Linked DNA regions of Homo sapiens. The protein of the gene in region 2 interacts with the protein of the main gene of each other region in a pairwise test. Each region holds a gene or a part of one and is shown on either strand. Other genes may lie near its edges.

Region 1 (7,037 bases), on a different chromosome or scaffold from region 2:
TTGGGAGGCCGAGGCAGGCAGATCTCTTGAGGTCAGGCGTTCGAGACCAGCCTGGCCAACATGGTGAAACCCCGCCTCTACTAAAAATACAAAAAATTAGCCTGGCGAGGTGGCAGGCGCCTGTAATCCCAGCTACTCAGGAAGCTGACGCAGGAGAATTGCTTGAACCTGGGAGGCGGAAGTTGTAGTGAGCCAAGATTGCGCCACTGCACTCCAGCCTGGGCAACAGAGTGAGACTCCATCACGCACACACAAAAACACTCAAAATAAATTATAGCTCTCTCTACAAAAACAATTCTTAACCAGTATGTCTTGATCAGTTGTGAGGGAGGTCACTAGTAATTTATTATTAATAATTTCAAGTAGCAAAATTTATTAATGATTTTTATAAACAAAAGGCCATGACATTCCCTCATTTTCCTTCTAATGTGCTTTCCACAGGGAGAGGAAGGAGTGTAGCTGGGACTCACTTACAAATATCAGCCTTTCTGGTCATGCAGCTCTACAAATAACCTGACTCTACAGATCGGTGCTTACAAATTTTTTGTGGCTTTTACAAATTGTTATGCCATGTCACTGTCCCAAAAGAGCTGTTCAGATTCTGCCAAAATCTGGGTCTATCCTGTGAAGTGAGCCACAGATCAAGAGTATTCCAATGTCAGGGGTAGAAGAAGGGGCAGAGAATGACTGTTGTTGATGTGAAGGTATCACTTTAAGTTCAAAGTCCCAACCCTCTGCCAGACAACTCATGGCTCTATTTCCCATACTCTTCAGTGACATTTTTTAAATCCAATTAGGCTCAACAGCAAAGTATTTGGTGAGCCCAGCCTGGCACTTCCAAGCCGAATATTTTCATATACTCTACCAAAGAGCCCCAGAAAGGCAGAAGGTCTGGAAACCTGAGATCTAGTCCCAGTTTAACCTCAAATGCTCAGCAGAGGAGGTAACAGTACAAGCTCTGAAATCAGTCTCTGCTTGTATTTCTTTTCCTCACTCTTGTTCTATAGCTAATTTTTTTTTTATTTTAGTACATATAATTATCTAAGCTGATATTAATTCTCTGTAGAATGAAGCAGGGTTAATAAGTAAAACATTTGGCTGGGCATGGTGGCTCATGCCTGTAATCCCAGCACTTCAGGAGGCCGAGGCAGGCAGATACCTGAGGTCAGGAGTTCAAGACCAGCCTGGCCAACATGGTGAAACCCTGTCTGTACTAAAAACACAAAAATTAGCTGGGCATGGTGGTATGTGCCTGTAATCCCAGCTATTTGGGAGGCTGAGGCAGGAGAATCACTTGAACCCAGGAGGCGGAGGTTGCAGTGAACCGAGATCGCACCACTGCACTCCAGCCTGGGCAACAGTGAGATCTGTCTCAAAAAAAATAAATAAAAATAAAACATGTTTGTTAATGTACCTATAAAATTACGTGTACTTAATTTTATGAAATATCAGGACTTCTAAAACATTTTTACTTACACAAGACTCTGGGTGTTATCTGTTAAGATTTGCAAATTATTACATGTTCTTAAAACACTGTTAGTTTTCCTTATTTCTAGTTGAATGCTTTACAGTAGAGCATCTCTCCCAAATGAAATCACAATTTTTAAATCTAACCTGTTGTTCCTTGCAGTGGATCCTGATTTGGACAAGCAGCAATTTGTAAGTGTCCCCGTTCCTTATTGAAACCAAGCCAACCCCAACCTGAGCCTTGGACACCAACAGATGCAGCCGTCAGCTTCTCCTTAAACTTGTCAAAGGAACCAAAGTCACGTTTGATGGCTTCCAGCAACTCCCCTATTAAAAAAAAAATCCAAAACCACCCACAAATGAACAGATTTCAATAATTACAGTAAAATGTTATATTACATGTATTAAAATATTTTTGTCATAGGGCCCAAGAAATTAGACAACATCAGAATGCGACACCTGGATCTAAGTTTCACAATTTTAATTCACGTTTTTGTTTTTTATAACTTCAACTTTTTTTTTTTTTTTTTTTTTTTTTCATTTTTTACCTTTTGAGACGGAGTTTCACTCTTGTTGCCCAGGCTGGAGTGCAATGCCATGATCTCGGGTCACTGCAACCTCTGCCTCCCAGGTTCAAGCAATTCTCCTGCCTTAGCCTCCCGAGCAGCTGCGATTACAGGCACGTGCCATCACGCCCGGCTAATTTTGTGTTTTTAGTAGAGACAGGGTTTCTCCATGTTGGTCAGGCTGGTCTCAAACTCCCAACCTCAGGTGATCCACCCGCCTTGGCCTCCCAAAGTGCTGGGAATACAGGCGTGAGCCACCGTGCCCGGTTCAAATTTTATTTTAAATTCAGAGGGTACACGCACAGGTTTGTTACACGGGTATCATATGATGCTGAGGTCTGGGGTGCAATTGATGCCATCACCCAGGTAGCGAGCTTAGTATACAACAGTTTTCACCCCCCGTCCCCTTCTTTCTCCCTCCCTGCTCTGTCCTCAGTGTCTGTTGCTGCCATTTTTATATCCATAAGTACTCCATGTTTAGCTTCCACTTGCAAGTGAGACATGTGGTATTTGGTTTTCTGTTCCTGGGTTAATTCGCTTAGGATAATGGCCTCCAGCTGCGTAGTTCACATTTTTTAATGAATCGTGTTAGAGGGATTTCCCCACTCACTGTACTATCTTTGTTAGGAAAGAAATACTACTTTCTGTTAGCTTTTTCTTTTCCCTGAATAGAAAATTTTCCTTTGACTTCTACCCTCCTTCTTCTACGCCTCCATTTGGGAATAAAGTCATTGTTCTTCTCCAAGGCAGCCCAGCTCTTCCTGTCTTGATGGGCAGTTTTCTCTACGACTGAACTAAGGGTATACTTTAAGAGCTGTAATCCTTTTATTCTGTAGTAATACAGAATATAATTCTAGATTAGTCACATCAACTAAATCAACTGGGTCAAAATCTCACTTCTCTTATTCTACGGGTTTAAAAGTAATCATCTTTATAAGCACAAATGATGGAATGTGGTACAGATTAAACAAAAATGGCAGCATACCAAAACCACTGGTTGCATATGAATATATCTGATATTCTGGTAACTGACAAAACTTCAAAAGTATTAACCGATAGTCTAGAAGACTGAACTCAGAAAAAAAATAAGTTGGCCAGGCACGGTGGCTCACACCTGTAATCTTAGTACTTTGGGAGGCCGAGACAGGTGGATCACCTGAGGTCAGGAGTTCAAAACCAGCCTGACCAACATGGAGAAACTCCTCTCTACTAAAAATACAAAAAAATTAGCCGGGCATGGTGGCAGGCACCTATAATCCCAGCTACTCGGGAGGCTGAGGCAGAGAATCACTTGAACCCGGGATGGGCAGAGGCTGCAGTGAGCCAAGATCAAGCCACTTCACTGTAGCCTGGGCGAAAGAGCTAAACTCCATCTCCAAAATAATAATAAATAAAAACAAAAATAAAGAAAAAGTTGCCCAGTTTCCCAAGCTTACTCTCCTCATTCATCATTACCTTAAAATGAAATTGCTTATTTCAAGTGCATAAGATAGGCTGCCTTCCATAACACTGATTAAAAATGAACAATAAAACCACAGAAACTTAGGGTGCATATCCGGAGCCCAGAAACAAGAGACAAGAACTACATTTACGCCTCATGCCCTCCCTGGGTGAAGAAGATAATTAAAGTCATCTGGGCCTCCACAAGCTACACAGGAAGTCAAGGAAACAGTGATAGCGAACAAGACCATCTAGCCCTGTACTCTCCTCATTCCCTGAACACTTTTTAAAAATACCCAGAAAACCTAATTTCCTGGAACAACTGACTTTTTATCAGTTAGGAAAGAGTGAAAAATAGCAAATGACACTATAATTTAATTCTCAAAACAACACCATTGTTATCCCTGTATCACATAGATGAAAAAAGGTACAGACGGTTAACTATCTAATCCAGGCCCTAGAAACTAGTAGACAGAAAGTTCATCTTTTCTAGACTGGCGCGGTGGCTCACATCCATACCACAGCACTTTGGGAGGCCAAGGTGGGTGGATCACTTGAGGCCAGGAGTTCGAGACCAGCCCCGCCAACATGGTGAAACCCTGTCTCTACCAAAAATATAAAAATTAGCCGGGAGTGATGCCACATGCCTGTAATCCCAGCTACTTGGGTGGCTGAGACACAAGAATTGCATGAACCTGAAAGGCGGAGGTTGCAATGAGCCGACATTGCACCACTGCGCTCCAGCCTGGGCGACTGTAAGACTCCGTCTCAAAAAAAAAAAGTTCATAAAATGAAGTCTCTCAGTCTTTCCCTAATATGAAGTACCATCCAGAAACCAGAAGGTGGAGTTGATGTGATATTCTATGTTGGCGTGAACATAAAATCTTATGACATAACCCCATGAAAGCATTCTCCATTCCTACTTGTGTCCTTTTGAAAGTTACAACTTTTATCATACTCGTTGTTATGAAAAATATGCCACTATGATACCTCTGGTAAGAATAAGGTAACTTAGGCCAGGCACGGTGGCTCATGCCTGTAATCCCAGCACTTTGGGAGGCCAAGGTGGGCAGATCATGAGGTCAGGAGTTCAAGACCAGCCTGGCCAACATGGTGAATGAAACCTCATCTCTACTAAAAATGCAAAAATTAGCCAGGCGTGGTGGCGGGCGCCTGTAATCCCAGCTACTTGGGAGGCTGAGGCAGGAGAATCACTTGAACCCAGGAAGCGGAGGTTGCAGTGAGCCAAGACTGCGCCACTGTACTCCAGCCTGGGCAACAAGAGCAAAACTCTTGTCTCAAAAAAACAACAACAAAAAAAACAAAAAACAAGTATAAGGTAACTTCAGTAAATCAACAATCGATTCCTACTGTGCACAAAATGTAGATAAGGGTGCACCAATATATACCAACCTTTGGGTTCTCCACCACCGTTAGGGCTGAGGTTTGTCCAGAAAATGCTATGATTGATATGACCACCACCATTGAACTTCAGTGCAGGCTGAAGAGCTATCTGGGCTGTAACATCTCCTGAAAAGTTAAAATGCAAACACATTTTTTTGTAACTCCTACTTTTTCAACCACTGTATACATTATATTTTTTTCTTTGTAAGCTATTAGATAATGGGACCAGCTTATCTATAACATCCGTTTGTCCTAAAATTCAGCACCCCCCCGCCCCAAAATTATTTGTCCCAGACATGCTGAACAACTGATGAAGGACCTAGCAGAGGTGGAAAAGCTAGAAAATTCACTCCTGGCTGCTAGGCTCAGGGATCTCTTAGATAGAAGAGATTTTAGGAAATGAAACACCAAAGAGGACAATCAAAATAATAGAATGCTAAAATGTATGGCTCAACATACAGACTGTACAGAAAACCTTCAACTCTCACTTTCAAGACAGACGACGATTCATTGGGAAATATCTCCAAGTCACATTAACAAGAAACTCAACATACTCAAAATTGAACTCCTGATGTTCTACCCCAAACTTACTCCTCCTATTGTCCTCCACGTCTCAGTAAATGCCAGCTCTGTCCCTCAGGACATCCTTGGGAACCTGATGTCATTTTTGACTCCTCTCCCTTCACCCCACATCCAATCCACCAGCATATCCATTAGCAAAGCCAGCTCTACCTTTAAAATACATCCAATCTATATAAAAGCACACAGAGAAAAATAAAAGAAAAAAATAAAACACAAGCAGAACCTAATCCCTTCTCCCTAACTCTACTGCCACCTCATTGGGACAGAGGACCAGTATTTCTCACTGCACTGGTGCCACTATCCCCTCAGTTTTGGGGGGTGGGGGTGGGCCTTGCCCCCTCCAAAGGCTCCCCTTCTCACTGGAGCGAACCCTAGGTGTTTACACTCAGCTACTCTTACTACCAAGAGGCGCTGCACTTGACCCCGTCATTGAGCACGTGCTCACGCAGCTGCAGCCTCACTGGCCTTTTTGCACTCACATGACCAACTTGGATGTTCCCCTCAAGGCTAGCTGAGCACTGCTGCCTCTGCTGAACACTCTTCCCCAAGACAGTCTCATGCTGCGTTCCTGTTCCTCCTTCAAGTCTCCACTGAAACATCAACCCCATCAGTGAAGCCTTCTCTAGCCACCATACATGAATTAGCAACTCCCTGCCACCCCTCCCAGACCCTTTACTCCTTCTCAATAGGCCCTGTAACTCCTGGCATACTGCATGGGTACCTTGCCAAATAAGTAGGCAAAATAAAATAGTCTTTTCTATGCCTTCAAGAAGCTACAGACTAAATGAACTATTAATATTAGAAAAAAATGGAAATCCTCTTGTTTAATAAATATTTTGTGCATATTATCCACAAGATACCAAGAGAAGCAAAGTAAAGGACACAGAGACCCACTGAGAGCTTTGCTCTCAAGGAGCTTACATTTTGGAAAAAGTTCTCAACTGCTGTTCTGAAAGTGTACGTTAAGAACATATGTCTGGGCCGGGTGCGGTGGCTCACGCCTGTAATCTCAGCACTTTGGGAAGCCGAGGCGGGCAGCTCTCTTCAGGTCAGGATTTCAAGACCGGCCTGGCCAACATGGTGAAACCCTGTCTTCACTAAAAATACAGAAATTAGCCAGGTATGGTGGCGCGTGCCTATAATCCCAGCTACTCAGGAGCATGAGGCAGGAGAATGGCTTGAACCCAGGAGGCAGAGGTTGCAGTGAACCAAGAACACGCCACTGCACTCCAGCCTGGGCGACAGGGCAATACTCCGTCACAGAAAAAAAAAAAGAAAGAGAAAGAAAAAAACATACATACAAGGCCAGGTGAGGTGGCTCACGCCTGTAATCCCAGCACTTTGGGAGGCTGAGATGGGCGGATCACTTGAGGTCAGGAGTTCCAGACCAGCCTGGACGACATGGAAAAACCCTGTCTCTACTAAAAAACCCACAAAAAGTAGCCAGGCGTGGTGGCGTACGCCTGTAATCCCAGCTACTCAGGAGGCTGAGGCAGGAGAATTGCTTGAACCCAGGAGACGGAGGTTGTAGTGAGCCGAGATCACATCACTGCACTCCAACCTGCGGGACAGACTGAG
Region 2 (7,037 bases):
ATCCTGGCCTGGCCCGGGACACCTGATCCAGCATCCTTGAACGGCCCTGCACATACAATGATGGACACTACTGTCCACACCACTGTCGCTTCAAGGATCAATCCACTGGTATTTATCAGAGGAGATATTTTTTCTTTTTTCTTTTTTTTTAGACAGGGTTTAGCTGTCACCCAGGCTGTAGTGCAGTGACGCGATCTCAGCTCACTGCAACCTCCACCTCCTGGGCTCAAACCATCCTCCCACCTCAGCCTCCTGAGTAGCTGGGACTATAGGTGCATGCCACCATGCCCAACCAATTTTTGTTTTTGGTAGAGAAAGGGCTTTTCCATATTGCCTAGGCTGGTCTCAAACTCCTGGGTTGAAGTGATCCACCCGCCTCAGCCTCCCAAAGTGCTAGGATTACAGGTGTGAGCCACCACACCCAGCCAGAGGAGACATCTGATCACAAATCCACATTTTAGAAAACCACGCAAGCAGACTACGTTTCCAGACCATACCTACTTGGGGGTAGATTCTGTGGTTTTGCTTTGTTTCTCGTCAGAGGTAGACAGATGCCACTTTGCTCCTGCCCTTACCTGTGCCGAAGTGGGTCCTGGTGCAGGCCGCCTTCTTCACCAAGACCTTCTGCTCCTTTCCTCCTCCGCTTCCTGCTGCTCGCGTGGTGGCCGTCCGTAACACATCCCACCTGCTGGCCATTCACCTGTGGCTGTGTGCCATCTTCCTGCCGTCTGACAGCGGGCAGCTGTGCCTGGCCCTCCCTCCTGTACATGGGGCTCCCAGGCTGTCTCTGTGTCTGCCCCTCCTGCAGGGCGCTGGCAGCTGTGTCCTCCGGGCGCTTCTTCTTCTTCCTCTTCCTCTTCCCGTGGGGAGCCGCAGTGGCCTCCCTGATGTGCTGTGGGAGGCGCGTCTCTGAGCCCAGCCTCTGCGGCTCTCCCACAAAGGTCTTTTTCCTCTTCTCAGAGGGGCTCTGGGGGGGCTCACTGGCCTCTGGCAACTGGTGTGGAAGAGACACAAGGTCCTCGTTGACCTGAGGCAGCGCCGTCGAGATGGAGGAGCAGCTCCGTGGTTCTGACGTCCCTGGGGGCTTGGGGGTACTGGACAGCAATGTGGGGTGGGGGCTGAAGGGGGGTTGCAGGCGGCTGGATGATTGGGGAGCAGGTGACACAGCCCTGTGGGGACAGCCAGGAAACAGGGAGAGGATGTTCTGAAAGACCCAGCAGAGCTGTTCCTTCTGTCTACCCTCACTCCCCTCCCTTTCACCTAAAAATCTGAAAAGGCTTTTACCCTGTAGTTTTCAGATACACATTAAGTTACATGTATGTTTGAAAGAAAGCTAACAATTAATTCAACATCTATTTAAATGCAAAGTTGGCCAGGTACAGTGGCTCATGCCTATAATTCCAGCACTTTGGGAAGCCAAGGTGGCTGGATCACCTGAGGTCAGAAGTTTGAGACCAGCCTAGCCAACATGGTGAAACCCCATCTCTACTAAAAATACAAAATTAGCCGGGCGTGGTGGCACACGCCTGTAATCTCAGCTAGTCAGGAGACTGAGGCAGGAGAATCGCTTGAACCTGGGAGGTGGAGGTTGCAGTGAGCCGAATCGCGCCACTGCACTCCAGCCTGGGCGACAAAGCAAGACTCCGTCTCAAAAAAAAAAAAAACCAAAAAAACAAAAACAAAAACAAAAAAAAAAAAACAAAGTTACCTAGGTGGTGGGTTGATAGGTGCAGCAAACCACCATGGCACCTCTGTAACAAACCTTTACATCCTGCACATGTACCCTGGAACTTAAAATAACTGATCCCTGAGATTTAAAAAAAAAAAAAAAAAAAAAAAAAAAAGCAAGCCAACACGTGATTTTAAAAGTCAAAAAAAAAATTTTTTTTTTTTTAAAAGGCAAAGTTAATAAGAATTGTTCCATGCCTTAGTTTCTTGTCACCAAGCAATTCAAGTATTTTTGCGAGCTCTAATGTAAAAACATCTTTAATACAAATGTGTTAAGGGAGGAAACCTTCACGAAACAATAAATGGTAAGGAAAAAAAAGATCCCGTGAGGATTTATTTTCCAACCTCCGAAAGTCTCAGGGTGTTCCCGGGCAGGAAATGAGCCTCATAAGGAAAGCAAGTGTTGAGCTGGCCTAATGACACCTCCACATTACCGTCATTAGGACGCTGAAACCGGGACACAGATGCGTAGAGCAGAATCATGAGCAAGGCGTGTCCGGGACAGGATCTAGTGCCGAACCCAGTGAGGCTCCCTCTTGCCAGCTATGTGTCTCTAGGAAAATTAACTTCCCACTCTGAACCACCATGTTCTCATTTGTCAATGAGCTGGGACCACAAAGCCCACCTCCCAGGGTTCCTGCAGAAAACAGGACCCCCGTCATCATCTAAACAAACTATAAGGGCCATGCCAGCTGCACGATGTTTGATTACTCTAAGTGTCTTCTGGAATCTTTTCCAAAAAAGCTTATAAGGCAAGAAACGAAAAACACCCAAACACTTAAGGCCCTCCCACGTACACAAATCTTATGCTAGGTATAGGGCAGAGGTGTGCTTGTGTGTGTATATGTGAGAGGAGAGTAAGGCAGAGGCTGTGGGCGACGCACAGTCATACCTCGCCCTCATGTAGCACTGGAGATTCTAGAACTAGAACCCAGCGCCGAGGCCACCAGTACAGTCCCCGCAGGCCGCCTCATGACTCACCCCATCTTTCACTGCTTCCGTCCCCACTCCCAGCGGCTTCCAGACAGCCATTTACCAGTTACTCTCAACTTCCTGCCACTCGAGGCACCTAAGAGACGCAGGCAGCCCCTGCGGACCAGGGCCCACATGCACAGGGAAGGGGCTGCATCTCTGGCAGGTGTCTGCAGAGGAACCCGAGAGCCCTGAGACAGTTCTTAACCTGCATGACGCTAGCAGGCAAGACGTCCCACAAAAAACGCTCGGGACTCCGAGCTCACTCAAGCCTCTCGCCAAGGCCTCACTTCGCCTTTCTCTTCGACTGGGAAGTACTGTCATGGGGCTGGTAGGGATACAGGACAGGTCAGTCCCCAGCACACCACATCACCACAAGGATGTCGCAGACAGACCACCAACAAAGACAGAACTAAGACATCAGGACTGCAGAGGCCGAACTGCCTTCACCACCCAAAGCTCCTTTACCACAGGGGAACACAGAAGAGGGGGATCTTGGTCAGTGACGCCCCCCTGTACCTCCTGGCTGCCCCAATGCTTTGTCTGTCCTGTGAGGTTGGCGATTCGTCCAACTCCTCACCAGCCAAGCACACGCAACCACAGGGAGAACCAGTTGGCACCCAGAAGATCCCGGCCCAAAGCTTACCTGGCTCTATGGACGGGCCAAGTGGAGGCAACGACGGGGTGAGAGGTTTTCATGGGGTGGGTGAGGTCGGAGGATGGTGAGGGGGGAGGTGGACGGAGGTCATTGCCGGTCGCCCTCCACAGGGTGCTGGCCTGCAGTTATCGACATAAATAAAAACTTGGTGGTCTAAAAAAGGTTTCCGTGAGTGAAGAGGGAAAACAAAAGTAACAAAAAATGAAAATAAAAACAAAAGAGCCCAGAAAAAAAGATGAGGAGACAGAAGAAGACAAAAAGGGGAGGTGAGGGGCAGGGGAATGGTAGAAGAAGAACCAGAAAAGTATTTTTGGTTAGAAACAAAAAAAAGGAAGAAAATTTAAACAAAAATCTCAGCACAACAATCACATCCACGTGCCGTGGCTGCCCAAGCTTCCTGCTGCAGAGGTGCCGGGCACCCCACTGGGGCTCTGCGCTTCCTGCCCGCCCCACCCCTGCTAGGGACACGTGCTGGTGGGGCCCACCCTCCCTCGGGTTCAGTCAGGATCTTCCACCTACTGTGAAAACAGGGAACTGCTACCTTGCCCAAACCTCCATGAGTCACATGAGCATCACCAGATCAGGGCTCTCTCAACACCCCATACTGCCTTCACCCCAAGATAGCCGTTCTTTAATTGCAAATGGCTGGGAACGACTAAAAGACACTTTGTTCCTCTAACATGAGGGAGGCCAAAGCCCCCGGACAATGTTCTCACTCCCTTCAAACCACAACCAAGCAACTCTTGGAGCTCTCCTGATACACAGCAGCGGCGAGACCCCCACACACCCACCTTCTTGGCAGAAAGGGCCAGTTTTTTGGCTGGTGGAGGAGACATGGTGCTTGCAGGCTCAGTGGTGGTGTTGCTCAGGACAGGGGACTTCAGCTTCACCGTCTTAGAATCTGCTCCACTTGGCGGCGTTTTGGAGTGGCCAGCGGTGGAACAGTTCGTTTCCTGAGAATCGCAGAGATGGGCCGCTCCACTCCTGGGGGTCTGGGGGGCCTTGGTGGAGTCGCTGCTGGCCGAGTGCTCTGGGCTGGAGCTGCTGGAGCCCCTCCTGTCGAGGCCAGCGCTCTCGTCGTTCCCCTTCAGCCCATGCCCGTTGGCAGTGGCTGTAGCCAGGAGCTTAGGTGAGGTAGAGAGGACAACATCCCTGCTGTCCCAGGAGCCCTGCCTTTGGCTCCCAGATCTGCTGCTATTCGAGTTGCTGGTCCCAGGCAGCCCCTGAGCAGTTCTGGGGGAAAAGTGCTGTGGAGGAGCTGGCTTCTTCACCTTCTTTCCAGGGTCGTCTAGGATGGTTGGCATGTGTGTGGGTGTCTGGGAGAGTTTGGGGGAAGGGGACCCCGAGGGCAGCTTTGGAGGAATGCAGCCGTTCTGGGACTTCAGGCCCAGGGTGGAGCCATTCCTGGATATGGGCACACCAATCTCTTCAGTGGTGTGCGGCTTCTTCATCGTCCCAGAGTCTTGTCGCTAAGGAGACCAAAGCAGAAAACACAACTGAGGAAGCGAGAAGTCTCAGCTGGGCCACATCTTCTTAAGGCCACAGTGAATCTTAGTAGCAGGCATGGCCTCTGATTAGCATGCTCAAGATAAATTATTTATCTGGACTCTTGGTAAAGACACTGTGGCTTCTCTGAACAATTCTGGTGTTCTGTGACATCCCAAGAACAGGGACCACAGCCGTGTACCACCACACCTGGCTAATTTCTGTATTTTTGACAGAGATGGGGTTTCACCATGTTGGCCAGGCTGGTCTCAAACTTCTGGCCTCGAGCAGTCCACCTGCCTCAGCCTCCAGAAGTGTTGGGATTACAGGTGTGAGCCATAGCACCTGGCCTGAATACATATCTTTATGGCCACCTTTACTATAAAACCAGTACATTTTCATCAAGATTTGGGAAGAGAAAAAAGTATAAAGGAAGAAATTTAGCAAAGTTCCATCACCTAAACATAACCATGCATTAACATTCTAGTGCTTTCTTTTTTCAATCTTTTCTTCCAAATGGTTCTGGCCTGAAGAGTTGCATCCCAGTTTTATCTTAAAGCTATTATCTCAAGCATTTTTATGGGCGATAACTCTCAATAAATATCTTTAAGACAGAGCCTTGCTCTGTTGCCCAGGCTGGAGTGCAGTGGCATGATGATGTCATCATAACTCACTGCAGCCTCAACCTTCTGGGCTCAAGAGATCCTCCCACTTCAGCTGCCCAACTGGCTAGGACTATAGGAGTAGACCACCACACCCGAATAATTATTACTATTTTGTAGAGATGGGGATCTTGCTATGTTGCCCCGGCTAGCCTTGAATTCCTGAGCTCAAGCAATCCTCCCACCCTGGCCTCTCAAAGTGCTGGGATTACAGGCCTGAGCAACTGCACCCTGCCTGTCGGCCTGTCTTTGACATTTTACTATATATACTATGTACTACTGATACACATTAACTGTATGGTTAATTTATATAAGCTATATTGTCTCCAACTGTTGAAATTAAAAATACTGTACAGTATATGTGTGTGTATCCTTTACCCTTCAGAGCACTTATTACAACTGCATAGAAATAACTTATTATTCTGTATTTAGATGCTGAATGTCAGCCTTCCCCTGCTTGACCAAGAGGCTGTACCCGTTATCTCTCTCGTTCCCACTGCAGCCCTCACCAGCAACTCAAGGGTCTGGTATAGAGTCGGTGCTTAAAAAATATTTGTTGAGCTTTTCCTGTACTTAGTACTCCATGCTAATTTTCTGGAAATGGAATTACAAGGCTAATTTTCTGGAAATGAAATTACAGATTTCATTTTCATGAAATCTGATGCAAAATGCCAAACTGCTTTTACTATACTCCAGCCACATCTATTTTTCAAAACATTTGCTAATTTGACACTCGTTTGGGCTATTACCACTTTAACATTCATATTCTCTGCACATGCACTAAAGTGATCTTCATTTGAATGAGATCTTTTGTTTACAAATGTTAACCTTTTGTTGACAATATTTTACAAGGTTTTATTGCTTCATTTGTTTGTAGTAAATTATGTACAAAAATGTAAATCTTAGTCAATTCATAATTCTTCTACATTTTATCCTTCAACTTTAAGCATACAAAGTCTTCTTCCCTTCCCAGAGGTTAAGAATTTACCTCTATTTTCTTCCAAGTTTTGTTTTGTTCCCTACATTCTATTCTTTGTTAATACTGTTTTCTAAAAGGAATTCATCTTTCCACTGCACCGCAAAGCCGTTTCACTGGCTGAACATTTCCATACACACTAGAACTTGCACCATGTCATTTAGAGTAAAACGGCTCGTCTGCTTGCAGTGTATTTGGAAAATCACGTTTGTAATGAAAATGCTCATGGTCAGTGAAGCGCCCCTGCAGGTGTGCCTGACACAGGGACTCTCCTTGAGCCAATCTCCACCCTCGGGCATCACTCTGCCCATGGAGTTCCTGTGGCAAGTGGGGCTTCCTTTGTTTTTCTGGGGTTTTTTGAGACAGGGTCTCATTCTGTTGTCCAGGCTGGAGCGCAGTGGCACAATGATAGCTCAATGCAGCCTTGTGTTTAAGTGATCCTCCTGCCTCAACCTCCAAACAGCTGGGACAACAGACGTGCACCACCACACCTGGCTAATTTTTGCACTTTTTTTGGAGATGGGGTTTTGGAGATGGGGGTCTTTCTATGTTGCCC
Region 3 (7,037 bases), about 73 Mb from region 2:
ACATACGCATATAGTAAAACAGTGAAGAAAAGCAAGGCAATTACAAACAAAATATGGAAGAGTGGGTACCCCAAAAGAGTGGAAGGAGGCGAGGGCAAGTGGGTGGGGGGGACTCCTGGGGGCTTCAATTGGGTACACAGGTGTTAGATTTTAACCATTCCTTACACCTTATGTATCTTCTTCATTTGTATGTAAGAATTTAGCAATGAAAGAAAAAAAATCAAGCACAGAACAATACTCAATGTGTGTTGCTATTTGTGTTTTAAAACATACTACAGGCTGGGCGTGGTGGCTCACGCCTGTAATCCCAGCACTTTGGGAGACCGAGGTGGGCGGACCACCTAGGTCAGGAGTTCAAGACCAGCCTGGTCAACATAGTGAAACTCCATCTATACTAAAAAATACAAAAATTAGCCGGGCATGGTGGTGCACACCTGTAGTCCTAGCTACTCGGGAGGCTGAGGCAGGAGAATCACCTGAACCCGGCAGGTGGAGGTTGCAGTGAGCTGGGATCGCACCACTGCACTCCAGCCTGGGCAACAGAGTGAGACCCTGTCTCAAAACAAAAACAAAAACAAAAACATACTACAGCAGGGGCTTGGTGGCTCACACCTGTAGTCCCAGCTACTTGGGAAGCTGATGTGGGAGAATCACCTGAGCCCGGGAGGTTGAGGCTGCAGTGTGCTGAGAATGTGCCACTGCACTCCAGCCTGGACAACCAGAGTGAGACCCTGTCTCAAAAATAAATAAATAAATACATAAATAAAATCAAACACACTACATATACTCATATATGCATACATTTGCTCTAGAAGTCTACTAGAAAATGGTTCCAGTGGTTGTTCTAGGGGAAGGAAACTGTGAACCTGAGGATCAGGGCAGGACCCTTGTATACCCATCAACTGGTGACTTTGTGTTTTCTTTCCTTCTTTTTTAAACCAATTGCATTTCTTAAGAAAAGGGGGGGCAATAAAAAGAAAAGGAAAATGGTGCGTTGATGAGAGGCCAGGTGCCAAAGCCAATATCATAAATATTTCCAATTATTTTCTTCTTCTGTAGAGAAATTACTAATGAACAGGAGAGATGGATCAAATTCCAGTTAAAGGCAAAGAAATGTGATCTTTGCAGTCCCTGTGCTGATAAAAGTACAATTTCATTACATTTCTGTAGTATCCCAAGGACTCGCATGATGACCTTCACTGGTTCCAGAGGTCAAGGAACTTTATTGATGGTGCTGATAGTACAGAATCTATCGTTTCATAGCTAGGAACACTGGCGCATGCCTGTGGTCCCAGCTACTTGGGAGGCTGAGGCGGGGGGATCGCTGGAGCCCAGGAGTTGGAGGCTGTGATGGAGCCTGTGAATAGTCACTGCACCTCCACCTGGGCCACACAGTGAGACCCTGTCTCTTTAAAAGTCAATCAATGTATCTATCTATCATTTCATGATTTTCAGATGCTTCTCTAATAACTAATGTTGTCATCCACAAAATTAAATAAACAAAAGGAGATGACCAATATACTTTATTTTTTTGGAAGTGTCCATTTGTTGTTGTTTGTCTCCTCACCCACCTTCTGCAAAACTGTGGATTTCACTTACCTGGAGATGGCTTCGACATGAAGTCAAAGGTGAGCACATTTGGGACTTTCATTGCTAGAAGCTGAAGCATCACACTGGCCAGGTTACACCTGTGAAGAGCATGAGACCAGGGTCATGACCTGATCCCTCTGCCATTGAGTCAGAACCCCTCATGGTGGAGTGTGAGTAAAAACTGCAGCTCTGGGCAAGCAGGAGAGACATGGTGACAAACAGCAGCAGTGCAGGAGCAACTGGTGCCTACCTCTGGATCTCTGGCACGGTCATCTTATCAAACTTCTCAAACTCGTCCTCCGTGTAGAGCCGGTAGCAGATGCCACTGTCCTCTCTGCCAGCCCTCCCTGTGCGCTGCCAAGCCTGCGTCTTCGATACCCGCTGCACTGCTAACACCTCAAGACCACTGTCTGGATGGAGAGTGAGCCCCATTAGTGCTTCATCACATGAACAAACTCTTTCTACAGTGTCGATAAAAAGAAGCACACCAGTGGTTCTTTCAGCAACACGGGGGTCCAGAAAGCCTCAAGGCTAGCACAATGGACAGCACAAAACCAGACTGCTCCGCAGCGGTTTGGCCCTAGTGAAACAAGGCTTTGCCATAAGCCCACTGTGAAATCTGTTACAAAAACATCAGAAAAACCTCACGCATGCAGCAAGGGGCGAGAAGAGTAGTTTCCGAGGTCTTGCCTTAGATGGTAGGATGGCCAACCCCTCCAGTTTGCTTGGGACAGAGGGTTTCCTGGGATGTCGGATTTTGGGTGCTAAAACTGGGAGTTTCAGCAAACTAGGATGGGGGTCATACTATCAATCAATGACTACGAAATTAAATGCCTCAAATCACTTGTGTGCTTTATCCTCCCTCCCAGTTCTGCTGTAAGACAGAAATAATGTGATGTCTGTTTTCTAGCAGTAAATGAGGTTCATTTTCTTGATAAAGGTGTATCATTAGCCTGGCACTGGAGACCCAAGCTCTTTCACCTACGTCATCACAAAAAGATACACCTGTGGAAGCCAGGACCCTCAAATGTTTACTAGAGCATTTCAGTTCAATAATTGGGAGCAATAATTTCAGTGGTCTCAAATCCTCTGTGGAATAAAGCAAAGTATAAAACAGACATGAGTCAAGATGACCTTAAGTTAGCTTCTCACTGCACCTTCTTAGGAGAAGCCAGTGCTCCTTCCATGCCTCACCTCAGCCAGGAGATCTGGTTCCTTCCTGAGAAACCTGGGAGCTCAAACCAGCCATATATATATAGTTTCTGATGACACCCTTTGATTGACACCCAGCTGTCCCTGGCCTTAGAGCCGACTTCTGATGGGGTACCAGACCCTCTGCCCAGGTCCCTGACCCTGTGTGCCCAAGTTTGCTCAACCTGGGCTCTTCTTTCCTGCCTCTACTTCCTGTCTCACATACCCGCCTCAGGACTCCTTCGCGGACCTGGAGTGTAGGTGATCTCACTCATGGCGCCTGCCACCTGAATTTGTTAGTTACAAACATGAAACACTCAGGGGAAAACTGTGGGACTACAGTTTCAGTGGCTGCTCACTAGACACAGGAGAGACATTCATGAACTACAAATTCTCACCAGGGTTATACTTCTTTGCTTTAACCATGCCCGTGTCAACTACATATTTTATTCCTGTAATGGTTATGGAGGTTTCAGCGATGTTGGTTGAAATGATCACTTTGCGATAGCCCTAAAAGGAGGAAGAAAACCAAAAAGCCGCATTGACACACGGATGATTCAGAAGTCTTCAAACATATTCTCACCATTAACTTCCACAATTCACTCTTGACCAACAGAAGATGACTCCATTATTAATGGCAGTCATTAATATTAATGGTTGGTCATTAAACCGGGCAGGGGAAGGGGACGCTGCAGTCTTAAAGGTCAATTTGAGGCAATGAGATGCAGTGGAACAAGCACAGGAATCAGAAGCAAGTAGATGTGGGTTGGAATCGTGGCCCTGCCAGTGACTTACTATGCGCCCCCTTGAGCAATTGTTACTTCCCTTCTTGGGGCCTCAGGATCCCCATGGGATCATAACCTGCCTTGCCGGTTCCCACGAGGATGACAGACAGTGGATATAAATGCTAGCACAGTGCCTGGCACGGCAAAGGCACACAAGAAATGGCACTATGGACAAATGCAATTTATGCTGGTCCTTAGAAGTCACTCGTTTACCTTGCAGCTTTGGTTTATACTCTCCCTCATCCCAACAACTGTCTCCCTGCTCCTGTCACAGGAGCGCTGCGTGTGTCACCGCGCATTTTATTCCTGCACCTCCTCAGTGCGCTGATCTGGCACCTGGGTATCCCATCCCATACACCTTATCTGGAGCCTGGTAACAGGTACAGACCTCGCTGGTGGATCCGTCTGGGTGCCCAGAATAGGGCTGGACAGAAGAGGTGGTGCACTCACCTTTGGGGCCCCTTGGAAGACTCGGAGCTGCTGTGCATAGGGCAGGGAGGCGTACAGAGGAAGGACCAGCATCGCAGGGCAGCCGTCTGGGAGGTGCTTTGCAATGTCTCGGCACGTCTTGCTCATGGCTTCGATCTCCTCCTGCCCAGTGAGGAACACCAGGATGTCCTGTGAAGAAGGGGCTTCCTGTAAAAAAAGTAGAGTGGGTTTACTAGGCATTGATAGAATTGCAGCTTGCACAGAAAAAGACAATGGTGATTGATGATGTTTCCCAGAGTTATTTCTCTTAACTATAGAAATGTAAATGAGCCTAAAAGTTGATGTCTAGCTTGGAGAGAACCCTTACCAGCAGTGTGTAAATGGTAACAGGCTGGGTGTGATGGCTCACGCCTGTAAACCCAGCACTTTGGGAGGCTGAGGCGGGAGGATCGTTTGCAGCCAGGAGTTTGTGACCAGCCTGGGCAACGCAGCAAGATCCCATCTCTACAAAACACTTTTTTTTAAATTGGTCAGGGGTGGTGACACATGCCTATAGTTCCAGCTGCTTGCCACTCCACTCCAGCCTGGGCGACAGAACGAGAACCTGACTCAAAAACACAAAAAACAAAACTGTAATATATAGGAGTTAGCCAGCTATGTTTATAGGCCAAGTGATGAAATTTTGAAGGGAAATCATCAGATTGATTTTTCTAACAAGAACAATACCATGAAAAGCATAATCAGGCAAGCAAATAAAATCTGCATGAAGCTTCCTTTCTTTTATAAGCATCTTGAAAAATGAAGTTGACAAAACAGAAGGAAACTTGGGGAAATCCTAATCTATGGAAATGAACAGGCGCAGCCATGCTGGAGAAGGAGCCTTTAATGAATGACGCCGTCGAAAGCGCTTTCACACGCCCCAAAACACACACTATACTCGGACAACTGCTTGAGATACTGAGGTTAATGGGGTTCCTCACTTTCAAATGGAACAACACCCAAGTGTGAATGACATACCTAATGCCCTGATTTTTCTTTGATTTCTGATCAGATACATTAATTTGTTTGATGTAAAGTGCTTAACACTTTGGGAGGCCGAGGCGGCCAGATCACCTGAGGTCAGGAGTTCGAGACCAGCTTGACCAACATGGTGAAACCCTGTCTCTACTAAAAATACAAAAAATTAGCCAGGCGTGGTGGCGCACGCCTGTAATCCCAGCTACTCAGGAGGCTGAGGCAGGAGAATCACTTGAACATGGGAGGCGGAGGTTGCAGTGAGCCGAGATTGCATCACTGCACTCCAACCTGGGCGACAGAGCAAGACTCCATCTCAAAAAATAAATAAATAAAATGAAGTGCTTGATGGACTGGGCGCAGTGGCTCATGCCTGTAACCCCAGCACTTTGGGAGGCTGAGGCAGGCAAATGGGTTGAGGTCAGCAGTTTGAGACCAGCCTGTCCAACACAGTGAAATCCCATCTCTATTAAAAATACAAAAGTTAGCTAGGTGTGATCCCAGATACTCAGGAGGCTGAGGCACAAGAATCACTTGGACCTGGGAGGTAGAGGTTGCAGTGAGCCGAGCTCGTGTCACTGCACTCCAGCCTGGGCGACACAGTGAGACTCCATCTCAAAAAAAAAAAAAAAAAGTGCCTAATGGCAAAATAAATAGAAAAAAATTTTAATAATTATATGTATATTTATGTATATATGTAAAAATACGTATTTTTTAATATGTATTTTTTTTCAGCCCAGTATTAACAGAACAAATGTGCAGAGGGATACACAGACAGGATAAAATCTAAAACAGTCAAAACCTCATGAGTGGGAGAATTCATCAAAGCCAGTGGTAACCTAATGCACCAGCAGCCATCATTCATGAAAAATTCTCGTTTGCTTTCTGCAGCTGAACAAGGCAGACTTCTTCCCCAAACACTATGAAAACGACAGTAAAGGCCACTGTCTTAGAAAGAAAAGGCAATGAGAGATGAGGAGTCTCAACTCATTTTGGAAGAGAGGGGAAAGGGGCTGGATGACTTGGCTAGAGGGAGGAAACTACAAATTATGTTGTGGGAGAGTGAAAACTCAGGGATTGGTTCAAAGTCTGAGTATAGAGTAGTTAAAGCCTTCAGTTCCCTCTCCTACCCAGGACGGCCAGGAGACTGGGAAGCCATGGGTCTCACCACGGGAAAATGGTGACAAAGTGAAGAGTCAAGATGACAGCTGCACAAAGGCCCAGGAGAGCCACCTGCCCCAACTGGAACAGCAGCATAAAGGACTCTGAAAAGACAGACTGTGCTTGAACACAGAACTATACACGACTGGCATATGAGATGTTGGAATATTTGGGAGAAAATGAGCCAGAGCTACCCAGAAAGCTTGCACAACTGTGTTGTTCAAGAAACAAGGTACAGGGATGATGGTGTGCTACTAGCAATGTGTGGTCATAATATTCTTAGTATTGATACTGGACTCAGAAAACATCATAATAGGCCAGACACAGGTGTGCAAGCATGTAGTCCTAGCTACTCCCAATGCTGAGGTGGGAGGACTGATTGAGCCCGGGAGTTCACGACCAGCCTGGGCAACACAGCAAGATCCTGCCTCAAAAACAAAAACCTAAACAAAAACATGATAGAACTGTCAAGAGGTTGGAGATAAAGGGGGTTGGGGAGGGGCATTCTAAACTTTTGTCACCATGGTAAGAAATTAGCATATGATGCCTGATACCCATAACTCAAAAAATAGTGGTCAAAGCAAGGTAGTTTAGAAACATGAAAGCAATATGTAGAGATTGAAAGTAGGTGCCCTAAACAGCAGAAATCTGGGATGTTGAAGTAAAAACAACTGCTATTCTTTTATTATAAACCTTTTACTATAAACTACTTGACTTTTTAAAACTTTAAATCCCATATGCATCACTTATTTTAAAATAAAAATTGACTGGGCACGGTTTCTCACATCTGCAATCCCAGTGCTTTGGGAGGCTGAGTCGGGAAAATCACTTGAGGTCAGGAGTTTGAGACCAGTCCGGGCAACGTAG

What was found. Proteins that work in one complex are often made in the same cells at the same time.
Region 1: the proteins of USP36 (region 2) and SOD2 interact in a two-hybrid assay, tested with the Homo sapiens proteins (one study listed by BioGRID).
Region 3: the proteins of USP36 (region 2) and DHX33 interact in binary tests that used the Homo sapiens proteins (3 or more experiments, as listed by UniProt).

The regions. Positions count from the first base shown.
Region 1 is NC_000006.12:159,683,240-159,690,276, forward strand, and holds part of SOD2 (superoxide dismutase [Mn], mitochondrial isoform A precursor), read right to left. Parts: intron 5,004-7,037; coding exon 4,887-5,003; intron 1,795-4,886; coding exon 1,615-1,794; intron 1-1,614. UniProt on the Homo sapiens protein: Destroys superoxide anion radicals which are normally produced within the cells and which are toxic to biological systems.
Region 2 is NC_000017.11:78,802,810-78,809,846, forward strand, and holds part of USP36 (ubiquitin carboxyl-terminal hydrolase 36), read right to left. Parts: intron 4,828-7,037; coding exon 4,150-4,827; intron 3,512-4,149; coding exon of another isoform or gene 3,478-3,511; coding exon 3,347-3,477; intron 1,170-3,346; coding exon 576-1,169; intron 47-575; coding exon of another isoform or gene 1-46. UniProt on the Homo sapiens protein: Deubiquitinase essential for the regulation of nucleolar structure and function. Required for cell and organism viability.
Region 3 is NC_000017.11:5,451,981-5,459,017, forward strand, and holds part of DHX33 (ATP-dependent RNA helicase DHX33), read right to left. Parts: intron 4,203-7,037; coding exon 4,017-4,202; intron 3,292-4,016; coding exon 3,180-3,291; intron 2,001-3,179; coding exon 1,841-2,000; intron 1,689-1,840; coding exon 1,600-1,688; intron 1-1,599. UniProt on the Homo sapiens protein: Implicated in nucleolar organization, ribosome biogenesis, protein synthesis and cytoplasmic dsRNA sensing. Stimulates RNA polymerase I transcription of the 47S precursor rRNA.